Linked DNA regions of Homo sapiens: region 1 is linked to region 2. Evidence: fine-mapped expression QTL. A gene starts in region 2. The other region holds a variant in brackets. All regions are shown on one strand. Distances are from middle to middle. Region 1 overlaps WDR86 (WD repeat domain 86). Region 2 holds the start of CRYGN (crystallin gamma N).

Region 1 (9,199 bases), 43 kb before region 2:
CTCTCACGGGAACCCTGGGAGACTAGAAGAGCTGTTATCACCACCAGCATCTGACAAGTAAGGACACGGAGGGAGGGCCGGGGAGCGTGAAGAGTGGCAGAGTGTGCCTCCCCAAAACACGCCCCTTCAGCATAAGGATGATGTCGAGTTAAAAGGCACGCAAAAAACAGGTGCGAGCAGTGCACCCTGACCTTCCCTTCTTTCCTGAAAGCAGGAGATCAAGAAACAGAAACATTCTTATCACCAGAGGTGGAGCTGAGGCCAAGGGAAACCTGTGCGGACAGACCCTGTGAGATGGGCCCGGACTGCTGTGCCCCTTCCCCACGACGAGCTGCTCTCCCAAGCCCCTCATCTCGCTGCATTTGCTGATTTGCTTCTTTGTCCACCCATCCCAATGTCCTCAGGTGGGACCTGAGTTAGAGACATGGGGTTTACATGCCCCATCCAGCATCTCAGGGACCTGGGTGACCCTCCCTCCACGCGAATGTGAGCCCTTCCCTGCTCCCCTGGTCTTGGAGCCCCGGGGCCGCCTCTACCCCTACAACCCCAAATGGGGCCCCTGGCCTGGCTCTCCTATGGGGTTGAGCACAGCGAAGCCTGATCAGGGCTGCCCTGACTCCAGCCCCGTCACCCGGAGCCTGCCCCTCCCATCTTCTGCGGCTTCGCTGAGCATCAGGTGCTGGTAGCAATGCACCCCAACCGCTTGCCGCAGGGGTCGGACCTGCCCTGGAGCAGGGCAGAGGCTGGCCGAGACTGAGCCAGGAACATCTAGACCCCAGCATGGGGGATCACACCCAACAGGTCCTCCGGCCAGGCACACCGTTAGGTCCTTCACAGCAACAGCAGCAGGGATGGTCACGGTCGCGGCGGCTAAGGGCTGCCTGGCAGCACTGTTCACGCATCTTCCATTGATTCACCAAATCCCTACCACAAGCCCACGGACGGGGCAACTTCATACCATAATCCCTAATCTAAAACCTTGGGACAATGCGTTCGAGGATTTTCTGGCTTACAGACACACTCCTGCATCTGCAGGAAAGGCGTGAGAACCCCCAGGCACCGGGATGTTCGAAGCACACACAGTCACATGTCTCTTCAGGCCAGACTCTGCCACCAGGCGTTTTCGTGCCAAGCTTAAGAAAAAACTTCTCAATTTTTGGAACTTTTTGGATTTAGGAATTAAGAAGGGGCGTAATCCTCCCTGTACATGTGAGGAAACTGAGGCCCACAGAGGCTGGGTGGCTTGTCCAGGGGAGGCAACGGAGACGGGGCAGCAACCCCACGTCCCACACGGCCACACCATTACAGCGCTATGTGCTTCCTCTATCCTGGTTGTCAGCTTATAGCATGATGGGCCACTTCCCAGTCCCCAACCCATGAGGACGGAGCCCAGGAGGCTGCCGGCGTTCACCCTGACAGCACAAAGACAAACCAGGAAAACAGTCAACACCCGCTCCAGGCGCCCTGCAGGCAGGCTCCGCCCCAGCTCTGGCCCAGCATGCAGATTCAGAAGCTGAGTGTTATGGGCTGCATCATGCCCACCCCAGATTCACGTGTCGCAGCCCTACCCCACCCCTGTACCTATGAATGTGGCCTTTTTGAAAGAGGGTCTTTAAAAGAGGCAGTTGAGTTAAAATGAGTTCATAGGGGGGCCCTAATCCAGTATGACTGGTGTCCTTCTAAGAAGAGATTAGGACACACACACACACACACACACACACACACACACACACACACACGAGGACAGGGAGAAGGCAGCATCTGCAGGTTAAGGAGAGGCCTCACGGAAACCAGTACTGCGGACCCCTTATCTTGGATTCCCAGCCCCAGGACCGCAAGGCCTCCGTGGCGCTTGCCAGGCCCCCATCTGCAGCGCTTTGTTATGCAGCCGAATCACAGATACCCAGGGCAGGGCGGCAGTGCAGGGGGTGACCTGGGCTCCCCTGGCTGCTGGGCGGGGACCAGGACAGTCTCACCTCCAGACAGATGACGGAGCCCCGGTGCTCCCGGAACACCCGCAGCTGCTCCCCACTCAGGATGTCCCAGGCACGGATGGTGGCGTCGGTGCTGCCTGTGAAGGCCGTGTGGCCGGGCGTGTCTAGCACTAGGCACAGCACTGCACCCGTGTGGCCCCGCAGCGTCTGGTGGCAGCAGCCGCTGGCCACCTGCCACACCTTGGCTGTGCCATCTGTGCTGCCGGTCACCAGAAGCCCCCCGGCCGCGGCCTCCTCCGCGCAGGGAGTGCTGGGGAGGTCCCACGGGGCAGAGTAGGCTAGGGTCAGCACGCAGTTGCGGTGGCCCCGGAACTCCCGGGACATCTGCCCCTTGTCCACACTCCAGACCCGAGCTGTCCGGTCATAGGAGCTGCTGAAGAGCTGGTTGTTGGCAACCAGGATCCTGGGGGCAAGAGGGAAGGGGTCAGGGATCAGAAGGCACGGGTTCCAGAATCCACACAGCCTCCCGACATGCCATGCTCGGCACTGCAGCTAAAATAACCTCTCCCTGTGTCTGCCCAGCTTGCCACACTCGTCTTCCAAGGTCCAGCTCAAATCGCCCCCACCTCCAGGAAGCTACCCTGACTCCCCTCATGCCCACCCTTCCTTGCCTGCCCCTGGGCATGTACCTGTAGCAGGGACCAAGCTTAGATGCTCCGCTGGGATCCCTCCAGCATCCCCACAGCAGCTCTGCAGGAGCAGCGGGAAGGGGATGGGGGAGGAGGTAGGGGAGCAGCGGGAAGCGGGTGGGGGGGAAGGTAGGGGAGCACGGCCCTCTCAGCTTGCCCGGAGTTGAAAAGCTTCTGGGGATTTAGGGTTTTCAGCCTAAGACTGAGAAAGTCCAGGGCAGAGTGGGACACGCTGGTCACCCTGGGAACAGGGCCGGCTCAAGTGGCTGGGCAGGGCACTTCAGATGAGGGCCCTGAGAAGCTGGAGAGCACTGGGAACTCCCATAGTGCACCCAGGGGTGCTTGTGGGAGGCACAGCCAGGGGTCACGCTACAGCCAGTGGGGGCCTCTGCTGCCAGCTCTCACAGCAATCCCCATGCAGACTGAGGTCACAGCCTCAACAGGGTTCTAGCCACATGGCTGGGAACTGGGGGTTGGGTAGCCAAGAGAGTCCATCCATTCAGTGCAACTGACCAACATGGGAGACCAAGGCCCCCACATTGTATTCACGACTCTTATTTTCATTTTGATGGAAGCCAAGAACTCCCCAGAAAAACACACATTTGTCTTTAGTGCAGAGCTTTGCACAGAACCTCAGAAGGTCTGAGCACACACCCTTGGTAAGAAGCCCTGCACCTCAGGAGAGGAGACCGCCAAGGGGTGCGGCCGTGGCTGCACTGTAACAAGGTGCATCCCTGCCGGGGTGGGACCCTCCTGAATCAGGACCACGGCCGGCCCTGCTGCTCCTCCCGTCCTCCCGCGAAGGGCTTGCTGGCCAGCCTGGCATGGACAGGAGACCCACTCGGGACAAGCCTGCTGCCTCCCGCCTCCACAGGATCCCAACAGCATTCCTCACTTCCCGCAAGCAGCTCAACGACACATGACTCCACTCAAATGCCAACTATCCCTTTCCAACTGGCTTCTTCCCTGAGACCCAGATAGGATGATTGTCACAAAACATGTATTTATTTATTTATTTTGAGACGGAGTCTCACTCTGTCGCCCAGGCTGGAGCGCAGTGGCACGATCTCGGCTCACTGCAACCTCTGCCTCCCAGGTTCAAGCGATTCTCCTGCCTCAGCCTCCCGAGTAGCTGGGATTACGTGTATTTTTAAAGGAAATGATGCCTTGATGCTGCTGCTGCAAAGTGCGGGAGGAAGAGGGTGTAGCGGGAGGAAGGGCATAGCGGGAGGAAGGGCATAGCGGGAGGAAGAGCATAGCGGGAGGAAGAGGGTGTAGTGGGAGGAAGGGCATAGCGGGAGGAAGAGGGTGTAGCGGGAGGAAGAGGGTGTAGCGGGAGGAAGAGGGCGTAGCAGGAGGAAGGGCATAGCGGGAGGAAGGGCATAGCGGGAGGAAGAGGGTGTAGCGGGAGGAAGGGCATAGCGGGAGGAAGGGTGTAGCGGGAGGCCTTGGGGTATGGAGGGGGTGGCTGAGTCCTGCCTGGTGTGAGAAGGCAGGGATGCCAGGCCACTGAACGATCGGTGACCCCAAAGCTCACAGGCCTGACCTGGCTCTGAAAACTCGGGAGGAAGTGAGTTCCTGATTTATGAGGACAGTTACTTAATCATGCAAATATCTACACA[G/A]AGCTATGGGTTTGGAGCTGTGACCGATCCAAAATAGTGTGTGTGTTTGTATATGTTGTGAGCACATGTGAACATGTGTGCATATGTGTATATGTGCATGTGTGTTGTGTGCACAATGTGTGCCTGCATGTACTTTGTGTGTATATGTGTATGTTTTGTTGCTTGTGTAAGTTGTGTGTCTATGTGTGTGCATGTGTGTGTTGTGTGTGCATATGTGTGTGTAAGTTGTGTGTATGGGTGCATATGTATGTTGTGTGTATGTGTGTAAGTTGCATGTGCATGTGTAAGTTGTGTATGAGTGCATATGTATGTTGTGTATGTGTGCACATGTGTATGTGTAAGTTGTGTGTATGGGTGTATATGTATGTTGTGCGTGTGTGCACATGTGTAAGTTGTGTATGAGTGTATGTGTGTGCACATGTGTATGTGTAAGGTGTGTATGTGTATATGTGTGCGCACGTGTGTATGTGTAAGTTTGTGTATGAGTGTGTATGTATGTTGTGTATGCACGTGTATATGTGTAAGTTGTTTGTATGGTGTATGTGTATATGTATGTGTGCGCACGTGTGTATGTGTAAGTTTGTGTATGAGTGTGTATGTATGTTGTGTATGCACGTGTATATGTGTAAGTTGTGTGTATGGTGTATATGTATGTTGTGTGTGTGCGCACATGTGTATGTGTAAGTTGTGTGTGCACATGTGAGAGTAAATCTGGCCGAGCATGATTTCTACCTTTAATGTTCCAGTTTTGCTTTTGAGAAGCATCTGACAGTTGTGGGTTTGGCAGCTGAGGGCCCACTGGTCACTGCAGGCAGGCCTTCTCCCCGCTGAGCCCATTGCAGCCTCTGCCTGACTCACAGGAGGGCGCTCCCCCAGCCCTACTCTCTTCTTTCATGGCAAACTTCTTTCTCAGGGAAGTCAGAGTGCTGGGAAGAGGCCAGTGGAGCTGTGAGCCCTGAGTTCTCACTCTAGCCCCTTCTTTACCACCTTGTGGGCTGCCTGGGCAGGTCTCAGGGCCTCACCTGCTTCAGCTGAGGAAGGCCGGGGCCAGACGGCCACCCTACCTTGTGTCTGCATATACCCCCCATTCACTCTAAAAAGTCCCCGCATCCCTTCAGCCTCCTCCTCAGGGTGTCACCCAGCTCCCCGTCCATCGACTATCGATTATTATTCCTGGCTGCAGCCACCTGCGACTCCAGCGAGCTGGGCTGATGGGTCTCACTGCCTTTCCTGTCCCCCCATGCGCTGGTCCACTGACTGGGGGTTCCTGTCAGAGCTCAACCAACAGCATTCCTCTGGTGGGGTTCATCCTGTCTGGTCTGCGCCCCCAGCCCCACCTTCAGGACCCCCTCGTGCCAGCCTGCGCCAGCCCTGTCTTTACTTGGGTCACCCTCCAGGCAGCGCCCCTCCTCCAGTGCAGCTGCCAGGCCCAGGGGCGCCAGGAGGCCTCCCTCGGGAGTCCGAGGTGACCACCACAAGTGACTCCAACAGTGTCCAACTGATCTGATCAGCAAAGGAATTTCCATTGCTCAGCTCAGACCCAAATTCATTGAGAAAGGAACAATTCCAACCTTCTTGAGAAGGAGGGGCTGGGATATTTTCCACAGCTACAAAGAAAGGAGAGGCTTAAAAATATCCTCAACTCCGTCTTCGGAACAATCCCCCACACTCCTCCTCCTGCAAACCTTTGGTCCACCATCGGGTCTCAATTAAGCCATTTCCTATGGAATTTGTCCCCATCCCTACGAGCTGTAGGCTCTGGTGCTTTTCCCTGCACCCAGCGGGGAGCCACTGTGCCCCCAAGGGGGAAGCATCAGGCTCTGTTCAGTGGATGGGCAGTGCCTCCCTGCCCCACATGCAGCCGCAGGCACTGAGCTCGCTGCCTGTCCTGGGTCCACGTCGCTGGGTGCTACTGACCACCTCCCAGCTGTCCACGTTTTTGCTTCCCCAGAGAGCCAAGGGCCCTCACGTGCAGGGGCCCATATCTCTGACCCCTCAGCCCCACCAGAAGCCTATGTATGGTGAGACTCAGCCCAAGCCCCCAGCCAGGCTGACCTGTTCACGATGGACGTGTGTCCTCGGTACACCTGCAGACACTGCCCGGTCAGCACGTCCCACCTCCTGATGGTGCAGTCGGCGCTGCATGTGAAGGCAGCCTCATCCTCCAGCTGGCAGAAGGTCACATAGCTTTCATGTCCTGCAGATGAGGGACAGGGGAGATGTGAGCGTACTGGGGATGCCAGCTCCTGCTTTTCTTCTGGGAACAATGTTTGAAAAGGGAAGAAAGCAGGATGTAGGGAGTGTTTGAGACAAGCTGGAGTCAATTAGCATTAGTTTTGTTTTGTTTTGTTTTTTTGAGACAGAGTCTCACTCTGTCACAAGGCTGGAGTACAGTGGCGCGATCTGGGCTCACTGCAACCTCTGCCTCCCGGGTTCAAGTGATTCTCCTGCCTCAGCCTCCTGAGTAGCTGAGATTACAGGCGCATACCACTATACCTGGCTAATTCTTTGTATTTTTAGTAGAGATGGGGTTTCGCCATGTTAGTCAGGCTGGTCTCGAACTCCTGACCTCAAGTGATCTGCCTGCCTTGGCCTCCCAAAGTGCTGGAATTACAGGCGTGAGCCACTGCGCCCAGCCCTCAACTCATCCTTCTTAAAGAATGACTTCAGTCTGAGTGATTCTCAGAAAGCACGGGGTACCAGTGAGGCACGACAGATAGTCAGGGAAGTAACCATGTCCTCAGGACGCAGCAACCATGGCGACTGCGCCGTCAACACAATAAGCCCCAGCATTCGCACTGCAGGCAAGCTCATTCAAGCAAAGCTATCTTCAGTAGGGACTTTCCCCTGTAGAGAGCACGTGCACTTTGATTTTTACCGGTCCTCACAGTGACCCTTTGCTCATTACAATAGTAAAAAACACACCCCTGGATGGAGATTTAAGATGCCAGTGAGACATGTGACGTATGAACAGGGATGCACAGCCACTGTGCATGAGCACCCAGAACATGCTTCCCAGCAACCCCCTTGCCCACCTGCTCATGAATAATCAGGTAAGACTCCTAAAAAGGGATCCTCCCTCCAGCCGGTCTTTGCTCTCTCATCCTCACAGGCAGCCTACCCTGACTCCCCTCTTGGGGCGTCCTGCCTATTCTGCACCTAACTTTCAGGGTATTCTTCCTCCTGTGCAATACATTGCTCTATGCTGCATCTCCTTTGCTGTGTGTCTCCTGTTTCAATTCTGTTAAACTAAGAAGACAAGAACTGAGGTTTCACAGCAGCCATCAACAGCAGGAGCAATCCAGGGGCACTCGCCTGCACCCTAAACCCTCTGTTTCCTCAGCTTCCACTCTTGCCTTCCTCCCTCCTCTCCTTCCCTCCTCATTTCTTTATCATCTCCTTTTAGTCTTTTTCAAACCTTTCAGCTTTTGCATTCCACATTTCCTCACCTGGGATGGGGACAATGCCTGCCTCACGGGATGTAGCGCAGACTGAGGACAGAGGCAGCCGCAGAGGGAATGGCACATGTTCGCTATTTTCCTTACACTGGGGAGAGATACTGTGGTAGGCAGAATGACGGCCCCAAGACAGCAGGTCCTAATCCCTGGAACCTGTCAATGTGACCTTACTTGGAAAGGGGTCTTTGTGGATGTGACGAGGTAAAGACTTTGACTGGGGAGATTATCCTAGATTATCCGGGGGGTCCTAAATACAACCGCAAGTGGCCAGGCGCGGTGGCTCACGCCTGTAATTCCAGCACTTTGGGAGGCCGAGGCGGGTGGATCACAAGGTCAGGAGTTCAAGATCAGCCTGGCTAAGATGGTGAAACCCCGTCTCTACTAAAAATACAAAAAATTAGCCGGGCGTGGTGGTGGGCGCCTGTAATCCCAGCTACTCGGGAGGCTGAGGCAGAGAACTGCTTGAACCCGGAAGGCGGAGGCTGCAGTGAGCTGAGGTTGCACCACTGCACTCCAGCCTGGGTGACAGAGCAAAACTCTGCCTCAAAAAAAAAAAAAAAAAAAAAAAATATATATATATATATATATATCTCCACAAATGTCCTTACAAGAGAGAGGCCAGGGAGATGTGATATACTCGGAAGAGGAGGCCGTGAAGGTGAAGGCAGAGATGGATGTGGCCACGAGCGCAGGAATGCCAGCAGCCACTAGGGCTGGAAGAGGCCAGGAACCGACCGTTCCCTGCAGGGTTTAGATGTGGCCCTGCTGACACCCTGCTTTCATCCCAGGGACGCTCATTTCAGCCCTCTGGGTTCCAGCACTGTGAAGAATCAACTTCACTTGTTTCCAGGCACCAAGCATCCTCCTTTGTCACAGCAGCCCCAGGACACTAACATAGACACAGAGACAATGAAACACAGCCTTGCCCTCCAAGGGAGCTCCAGGCCCAGAAGGGAAGACAGTCAAGGGCAGCATGTGGTCAGCAGGGCTCGGCACCCCACTGGCAGCGGCTGGCTGGGGCTCGGGAGAGAAGCCTGAGCACTGGAGACCAGGAAGAGGGTGACTCGGTGCCCGTAGGGAGAACAGCGGCTAGGAAAGCAGGCGTGCAGGGACTGGCTCCATGGGGCACCTCCAGGCCAGAGTCTGAGTGATCGGTAGAGATGACTGATGAGGCCGGGATGTGGCCAGAATGGAGGGCCAAGAGTGGAGGGCCATGCCAGGGTGTCTGGGGTCTCAGCACCTGAGCTACCCCACCAGCTGGTTGGGACTCTATCTCATGGGTGCAGTTAGATAGCTTGACTATCACCCTGGCTGCCAGATCAATGTTTATGCCTCAGGCATTGCTTAGCAGCCCTGGGGGCCCTCAGGGTCTCTGATCTTAGTAGGGCCTGCCCTTCAGGTAAAGATGGTGTGTATACAGTTGTCCCCCAATATATACAGTTGCCCCCAATACCCATCAGGGATTAGTTCCAGGATCCCCTGCAGATACCAAACTC
Region 2 (9,052 bases):
GAGATGCCAAAGCCCAGCTGGTTTTGCAACTGATACAGAAAAGAGAGGGGGCACCACACAAAGGCCCCTTTACTGGGGTTCCTCAGATGTTCACCAGAACCACCCAGCCCAGGCGTCGGGGGAGGGTCCTCAGCAGACATAAGCGAGACGCTCTGTGATGAGAGATGCACGCCCCCAGGCTCAGGAGTCCGCCACTCCCCACCTGAAGCTCCAGAGCTCACAGCAGGTCAGTGAGTACCCATGACCTGGGGGAACGGCCTTGCTTAAATCCCACCCTAGGAGCAGCTGGACCGAAACAGTCTTTCGCCACCGGGGAGCCATGCCCCTCGTCTGCCCTCCCTGCACACACCTCTTGGGCGGCAGCTACCTGTGTAATTCCAAGGGACCTGCCCCCCAATTTTCCCCTGACAGGCGGGTGATTCTTCAGCTTCCTCCATCAGCCATTCCAAGACATGGAAGGCTCCAGAATGTGCCACAAGACCACCTGTACTAGTGGCCACACTAGGCCCAAATCAGCCTCCCATTGGCGGAGTGTCCCCTATCTGGCTGGAAATCTAAATTTGGATGATTTCAACAGCATTTTAAATGGAAAATGCAGCTAGATTTTTGGCTCCGAAACTTAAAGTGGTTTATTGATACCTGTATGAAAACTCAGGGCCACTCCCACTCAGTTCATAGCAACTTGGCCCCCCACCTACTCACCTCATGCCAGCAGGTGGCTCTGGGTATAGCTCCTTCAGTCTTACAGACTTTAAAGCCGGGAGGACCACGCTCCCCGATTCCTTGCCACTGTCTGCCAGGGCTGACCCTCGGTCCCTCCAGCAGGAAGACTCAGCCTTCGGTGGACGGGCCCACTCACCATTCCTACAGGCCGACAGGAGCCCATGTGGTCACTGTGGCTGTTCCAGCGGAAGAAGTCGGGGTAGTCGCCGTGCTCCAAGATGAACTGCTGGCCCCGGAAGTCGGGGTGATTGAAGCAGACCCAGGCTCCGCTCTCCACGTGGATGGAGTTCACTCGGTTCATAAAGCCCCGGTCCTGGAAGTTGTCACAGTCCCCGAAGACCTCCAGCTTCTGCCCTGTGAAGTGCTTGCCTTCATAGAGAGTGATCTAGAAAGGGCAGGTTACAGAGCTCAGGGTCAGGGGCTTCTCTCCGTCAGCGTTGGAGGCTGGCGTCTGGGTCCCAACACCCTGGATGGAACCCCTACTCCCAGGCCCCCAAAAGCCCAGACCTGCTGCACACAGTAGGTGCCCAACACTATTTGCCAATTGGGCAAAAGAACGAACAGCTGGCAGGCTGATGCCATACACAGCTACTGTTCCTCCCCACCCTTAGGAGCTCACAGTGGGGCAGACAAATTTCAGCAGCGATTTGGGGACAGGGGTTTCCCCTTTGTCTAGGTGCCCATTTCAAAATGGGCTGTTTTCAACTTCCACTGCATTTTTAACTCATTTTTTAATTATTAAAACATAAAGCCGATAATAACATTAAAGGAGGTGTTTTCAAAAGAAGAAATTTCACCCACAACCCTCTCATGGTAACCCAGCATATATTTTGCAGAAATTCGGGTTCCTGGGATTGGGCCTCCTTCACTGGAGAGGCTGAATGGGCCGAAGCCGCGTCAGGGCCTGGCTCGGGATTAATGTTCGCAAAAGAGGGCTTATAAGTGCCACCCTGTCTCTCTGTGTTTTGTAGGTCACTCCTTTGGGTAGCAGGCATGTATCAGATCTGGAGCTCCATCACCCTGCTGGGAGTTCAGACATCGTGTCTTATAGCTACGTGGCACTCACAGGTTGTCCTTGTCCCGAAACAAAACAAAGTGAAGCAATAACAACCCGCCAGACTCATTTCCTGCTGTGGAACCTAAAATCTCAACCATTTAGTAACTCTTTGGGTTTCAAGAACTGTGGCCCTAGAAGGGTCCTGCCAGAGTGCAGTGATGTTCCCCATCACTATGGTCGCTTGTGCCTCACCAGTGTCTCCAGTTCGCTCAAAAGAACACGAGAATTGCCCTTCCAGGCCCCTTGGAGTCAGGCGTGGCCACATGCGTTCACCGGAAAGGAGGCAGACACCTTGGCGTTCTGCACCCCAGAGTTACTGGGGCCCTTTGTTACTGAAGCATCACCTGGCCCATGCAGACTGATACAGCAACACAGTCACCCCCAGACACTCTGGAATGTGGCCTTGGAGACCAAAGGCTTCATGGGAGTGGCTAGGCTAGGGGCACTGGAGAGGGCGAGGGAGAGCCAGGTCTCCCGTCCTTCCTGCACCAGGCACGGCTGGTAGAGGGCCCCTGAAACCTTCAGGGAGGTCTGGGCACCAAAGGGATTCGGGGCTCCCTCAAATCTCAACATTTTTCAGAGAACCAGCCCTAAGTGTCCCTGAAGAGACCCTGGGAAGGAAAAGCCATAGAGGCCAGCCTTGGGCAAAGAAGCCGCAGCAGTGGGGCGGAGGGCTGTGGGACAAGCCAAGCCTCCCCCACCCCAAGGAAGCCCCAGGGAGTCTGAACACCCTCCCTGCTCCTGACTGCAGGGCGAGGGGTTGGAATCCCAGAAGGAAGGAGTGGAGATGGAGACCTTCCTATCCATCCACACCAGAGAGGCCCCAGGCCAGTAGCGAGGCCACCCCATTTTATTAAGAAATTAAACCAGCTTCCCTTGGATTTGTCACCATCAACAGTGTGCACCCTCCTGCATCCCCTAGCACAGGGGGCGAAGGCGGAGCCCCACTCGGTTTCCTTGGGGTTGAGGGACGCACTCACCTTCCCCGAGCGCTGCGCCATGGTGCGCCCCGCCCCTTCCGCGGGTCCCCGTTTACACCGGGCAGCGCCCTGCTGGCTCAGCGCCGCCCCGGACAAAAGATTTGCTGGGCCGGCCCCGGAGCGTTAGTGCTGTCGGGCGTGCTAAGCCCGAGGGGCCACCAGGCGGTTGGGACCCGCCGCGGCCACCCTGTGCCACCGCGAGTGCAGCCCGCCCTGCCCGGGGTCTCCCTGTGCTCTCCGCGTTTAGCTCCCGAGCCTCCTTCCTCCCTGAGCCCTCCCGCCCAGCCCGCGGCTGCCCCTGCCCTGCCCTGGAGTGGTGGGGGGAGGAGGGGAGGTGTCTCTCTAGCCCTCCAACCTTTCTTCCCCTGCGCTGCCCCTCAGCCCTCACGCCCATCTCCCTCCCTCCCAAGGCCTGTTCCGAGCTCCCCAGCCCACTCCCCTTTCTCACCTGGCTGCAGGTAGTCTCGCCTTGGTGCCAACTTGTTTGTCTCCACGAGGATGCAACCCAAGCTTCCCCGGACAGACAGACAGCCCTTGACCGCCCCTCCCCTGGCTGCTCTGGTCTGAGCTCCCAGGTCCCCACCTTAGACCTCCGGCTCCAACTCACCCAGCTCCTGATGCACCCCCCCACACCCCACAAAACGCCAGGCCAGGTCAGGCCTCCCTCCTCCCGCTCTCTTCCTGCCTGCCTCCCTCCCTGGCACTCTCCCTCCCTGGGTCCCTCTCTCCTTGAAGATCCTGCCTAGGGTGACCAGGTGACCCGCGCTGCCCTGAGCTGGGGGTACAGTGCTCTGCCCCTTGCCTCTCTGCTGCACCAACTAAGCCACCCTGGACGCCCAGGATCAGTTTACAGCACAAAGCAGCCCCACCGCGGAGGGAGAGTTCCCCAGGGCCCAGAACGAGCACTTGGCAGACAGCAGAGGCTCAGAGATTGTGGAGTGAGCAGAGCGAACATGGAGCCCACAGGATGTGCAGCCCCCACACGGCTGGGGAGATGAGCTGGGAACACAGGACTCATGACTCAGATGGCTGGGGTGGTGGGGGACAGGCTCTGAGATCAAAGGAGAGAGGGGCAGGTGCTCCACAGGGGCTTCTGCTGGAGGGGAGGGAGGAGCTTTGGGGAGGAGTTTGGGCTGCTCTTCCTTCAAACAGTATATTTTTATGACCATTTCACAGATGAGACACTGAGGCCCAGGAAGAGGAGGTTATGTGATTCTTGGGGCAGAGGGGTGACCTTGCCTCTGCTGTGGGAGGTTTTCAAAAGTAGACAGGGTACAAACCAGAACCTGCATGTCACCCTTGAACCCAGGGACGGTCCTCCCTAGGGACGCCCCTCCCTAGGGACGCCGCCCAGCTGCCTCCACTGGCGCCCTTACTTGCCAAGCCACACATTCCAATGTTTCTCTCTGGACCTGGGCCCTGGTGGGGACATAAAATTAAAAACAAAATCTCCAGCCAACCCAGAAAACTTCTCCACGAAGGTAGAAGGAAAAAAAAACAATTTTATTATTGAATAAACTTTAAACTGGAATGCGATCTGCATCACGATCTCTCCCCTAAGAGATCGCAAAGATGGAGAGAGATCTCACTCTTCTGTAGCCAAGCAGACACAACCCACTGCATTCATGTTTTCAGGATAAAATTGCTGATTTTCTTGTATCTCTATGACTGGAGGTGGGTTTTGCAATTTGGAGTCAGGTGACAGCTGAAGTCAGGCTTCTTAGGAAACGGGGAGGGTGGGGGCACTTACTCCTTGATGTCAAGACTCAAAGAGGCTCCCAGAGGAAACATGACTGAGTTGTTAGACTGGCAAGAGGCTTGTTTAGCCATTAAAAAGATTTACACACATTTGAAAATGACAGAGAAGGAAATTCTGCAAGAAAAGGGAGGAAAGGGAAGCCTCTTCCCTTATTTTCAACAGGGAAAAATAAGCCTTAAAAAAAGGTTTTATTTTTTAGAGCAGCTTTAGGTTCAAGTTGAATTCAGCAAAAGGTACAGCAATTTCCTGTATACCCCCTGCCCCTACACACACACACACACACACACACACACACACACACACACACACAGAGCCTCCTCCACAATCAGCGCCCCCATTAGAGTGGTACATTTGTCACAGCCGATGAACCTATGTTATACATCGGGATACAGGATGAGAAGTTGAGAGAATGCGGCGTAGACTTTGTTAAAATAACACATTTTTAAAGCCTCCCCACATAATGTGGTTGATTTTTCACAGCTTGCTACTCTTTGTCCAGTTGAGTATGTAAGTGTTTGACTCTTAACTTTTTCTTTGGGTCTTCATCTCCTTATAAGGGCTCCCATGCCACATAAAACTTGTATTAAATAAGTTTGTATGCTTTTCTCTTGTTAATCTGTCTTAGGTCAATTTATTTCTCAGGCCCAGCCAGGACCCTAAGAGGATGGAGGTAGAACTTTGCTGCCTCTACAGTGTAATGCCATGGTTCCACCATTAGAGCACCAGGTAGAGTATTCTCACCACCTTAAAAGTCCCCTGTGTGGGCTGGGCACGGCGGCTCACACCTGTAATCCCAGCACTTTGGGAGGCCGGGGCGGGTGGATCACCTAAGGTCAGGAGTTTGAGACCAGCCTGGCCAACAGGGCGAAACCCTGTCTCTACTAAAAATACAAAAACTAGCCAGGCGTGGTGGCAGGCGCCTGTAATCCTAGCTACTCAGGAGGCTGAGGCAGTGAGAATTGCTTGAACCTGGAAGGTGGAGGTTGTAGTGAGCCAAGATTGCGCCACTGCACTCCAGCCTGGACGACAGAGTTAAACTCCGTCTCAAAAAAAAAAAAAAAAAGATAAAAAAAAAAGTCCCCTGGGCTCCATCTGTTTATCCCTCTCTCCCCCTTAACTCCTGGCAACCACTGATCTTTTTACTATCTTCACGGTTTTGCCTTTTTCAGGATGTCATGTATTTGGAATCTTACAGTATGTAGCTACTACGGTTTGAACGTGTCCCCCAAAACACATGTGTTGGAAACTTAATCCCCAATGCAACAATGTTGAAAGATGCGGTCTCATGGGAAGGGTTTAGGTCATGAGGGCTTCACCCTCATTCATGGATTAACGCTGACCATAAAGGGCTACAAGGTCAACCGCTTGCTCTCTCTCACCCTCTCTTTGCCCTTCTCCCATGGGATGATACAGCAAGAAGGCCCTTGAAAGATGCCAGCACCGTGATGTTAGACTTCTCAGCCTCCAGAACTGTGAGCCAGTACATTTGTGTTCATTGTAAATTACCCAGTCTGTGGTATTCTGTTATAGCGGCACAAAACGGACTAAGACAGCAAGTAGCTTTCTCAGATTGGTTTCTTCCACTTAGTAATATGCATTTAAGATTCCCTCATATCTTTTCCTGGCCTAGTCTCTCATTTCTTTTTACTGCTGAATCATGTTCCCTTGTCTGGAAGTACCACAGTTTAGTTATCTATTCATCAATGGAAGGACATTTTGGTTGTGTCCAAGTTTTGGCAATTATGAGGAAAGCTTCTATAAACAACCACGTGTAGATTTTTGTGTGCTCCTTTCACTATACACTAAGGAGTGGGATTGCTGGATCATATGTTACAGGTATGTTTAGTTGTGCAACAAACTGAAAAAAAAATAAAAGCCAGGTGCAGAGGCTTGTACCTGTAATCCCAGCTACTCAGGAGGCTAAGGCAGGAGGATTACTTGAGGCCGGGAGTTCAAGACCAGCTTGGACAACATAGCAAGACCCTGTCTCTAAAAAATTCAAAATCAAATCAAATAAAAAGAAACTGTCAAACTCTCTTTCAAAGTGGCTATATGATTTTTCATTCTGACCATTTGGTGCTATCAAGTTTTGGATTTTAGCCATTCAAATAAGTGTGCAGTGGTGTCTCATTGTTGTTTTAAGAGCTTTTTTTTTTTTTTTTTTTTGAGATGGAGTCTTGCTCTGTCCCCCAGGCAGGAGTGCAGTGATGCGATCTCAGCTCACTGCAATCTCTGCCTCCTAGGTTCAAGCAATTCTCCTGCCTCAGCCTCCCCAGTAGCTGGGACTACAGGTGTGTGCCACCACGCCCAGCTAATTTTTTTTTTTTTTTTTTTTTTTTTTTGGAGATGGAGTCTTGTTCTGTTGCCCAGGCTGGAGTGCAGTGGCGTGATCTCAACTCACTGCAACATCCACCTCCTGGGTTCAAGCGATTCTCCTGCTTCAGCCTCCCGAGTAGCTGGGACTACAGGCACACGCCGCCAAGCCTGGCTAGTTTTTTGTATTTTAGTAGAGATGGGGTTTCACCATGTTGCCCAGGCTGATATCAAACTCCTGAGCTCAGGCAATCCGCCTGCCTTGGCCTCCCAAAGTGCTAGGATTACAGGCGTGAGCCACCGCGCCTGGCCAATTTTTGTATTTTTAGTAGAGATGGGGCTTCACCACGTTGGCCAGGCTGGTCTTGAATGCCTGACCTCAAGTGATCCGCCTGCCTTGGCCTCCCAAAGTGCTGGGATTACAGGTGTGAGCCACTGTGCCCAGCTGAACTTCTTCTTTTTAATTTGTATTTGCCCTCATCACAGCAGGGCCAGAGCACACAGACAACCCAAAAAGGTGATGACAACAGAATCCAAAACAGAAGCAGTGATTTGGGGTGTTTTCTGAGAAATATATATGAAAAAATGCCTAGCTGAAAGCCCCACGCAAAGAATTATTAAAAATGGGTAGATGAATAAGATACCTGCAAATTTCACCTCCATTCCCTATTTCTAATGCAATATCTCAATTCCCACCTGGGATTTTATTATAATTCAGTTACCAGAGGAGGAGTCTGCTAAGATTCATATTATCTATTTGTGGCCAGGTAGAACCCCTCCCCAAAATAGCTACATAATATGCAAATGCCAGTATCACCAAACCTCAACATCAGAGTCATTTTTTTGAGTCATCTTTGGTAGAGCACTGTTAAAATGTACCTTGAGGTAGGTGAGATCTTGAGTCACTATACAGCTGCTAGTTGGGGACAAAATTCTAAGGAAATGGACTGAGAATAAATATCGTGACAGCACAGAAGAAGCAAGGCTAAGAATGCTATCATGGCTTAAAAAATAAAATCTCAATAACATGTAGCCTTAGAACTACCAGTAGCTGCTCAGCATTGGAGAGTTTTACAGCGTGGAGGCTAATGGTTTTAATAATAAATCACCCTGAGCCATCACCCGTTTGCCTGCCTCCCTTCTCTGCCTCTTGTCTCTCCCGTTTTTGGGTAATTTAGAGCACAGAGAAGAATAGGAAATAATATAAGGAACAATAACACCACCATACAAAGTTTGTCAAATCTTAGCATTTTGCCAGGTTTATGTCGGATCAATGTTTTTCCTTAAAATAAGAAATCATTATACATAGAATTGAAGGCTTCCTTCCCCATAAGGATAAGATACTGTCCTGATTTTTGTGTTATGTCTTTGTGTGTTTTCATCTTTTTACTTTCTTTGTATGTATCTGTAAATAATAGAAAATTTTTAGTGTGGCTACATTATATGTAGCCTTCTGCAATTTGGTTTTTTGTTTTAGTGACAAGAGTTTCTGAAATGGTGAATGAACAAAGCTCAGTAGAATTCCTCAGAAAACTAAGTAAAATCTTCCATTTATATATCTAATAAATTGCATACCAGGAAATCTTCAGTATATATTAAAGCCACACAAAAAATACTATGCGTTTCTAGGGGAAATTGTGGGACAGTGTCTCCTTGGATGTGGTGGGATATCCAGCATCCTGGGGCCTGCCCACCCATCCTCCAGCATTCTGACAAACAGAAACACCCTACAAAATTCCAACCACACCCTGGGACCAATACTGCCTCCTTTGAGGCCCATGCCTCTGGGTGAAATTGCTGGGTTGAAGCATGAGTTCACCTTCAAGCCACTAGATGCCACAGAGGTCTTCCAAATTGCCCCACTGACATACAGATGAGATCTACCCTTGGTAGTTCCAAGGCCAGTTGCTCAACATCAGTTCAAATGTATAGCGTTCATTTGAATTGGATCTTTTGTAAATTGCTTGTTCATATGCTTTGCTCATTTTTTTCTGTCTTTCCTTATTGATTATGTGTGTGTGCCTGTGTGTGTGCAAGTGTTTCTTTGTTTTAGAGACAGAGTTTCACTCTGTCACCCAGGCCAGAGTGCAGTGCCACGATCATAGCTCAATGCAGCCCCAAACAACTGGGCTAAGGCATCCTCCTGCTTCAGCCTCCCTTGTAGCTGGGACTAAAGGCACACGCCCACACCCAGCTAGGTTTTTAAAATTTTTTGTAGAG

Evidence for each region. PIP is the estimated chance that this variant, and not a neighbour inherited with it, causes the effect.
Region 1: its variant is fine-mapped to the expression of CRYGN in whole blood (TOPMed, PIP above 0.99).

The regions. Positions count from the first base shown.
Region 1 is chr7:151,393,800-151,402,998 of GRCh38, forward strand. It overlaps WDR86 (WD repeat domain 86), which reads right to left. Exons shown (of 6, transcript NM_198285.3): 2 at 6,301-6,442; 3 at 1,977-2,397. Among named protein-coding and RNA genes, the nearest start is that of WDR86-AS1, 11 kb to the right of the region's middle. The variant G/A (reference allele first, on the strand shown) is at 4,246.
Region 2 is chr7:151,437,137-151,446,188 of GRCh38, forward strand. CRYGN (crystallin gamma N) reads right to left here and starts at 3,005. Exons shown (of 4, transcript NM_144727.3): 1 at 2,761-3,005; 2 at 860-1,108. The coding sequence starts at 2,781. RefSeq lists enhancers at 573-1,422, 1,784-2,284, 2,285-2,785, 3,497-4,033.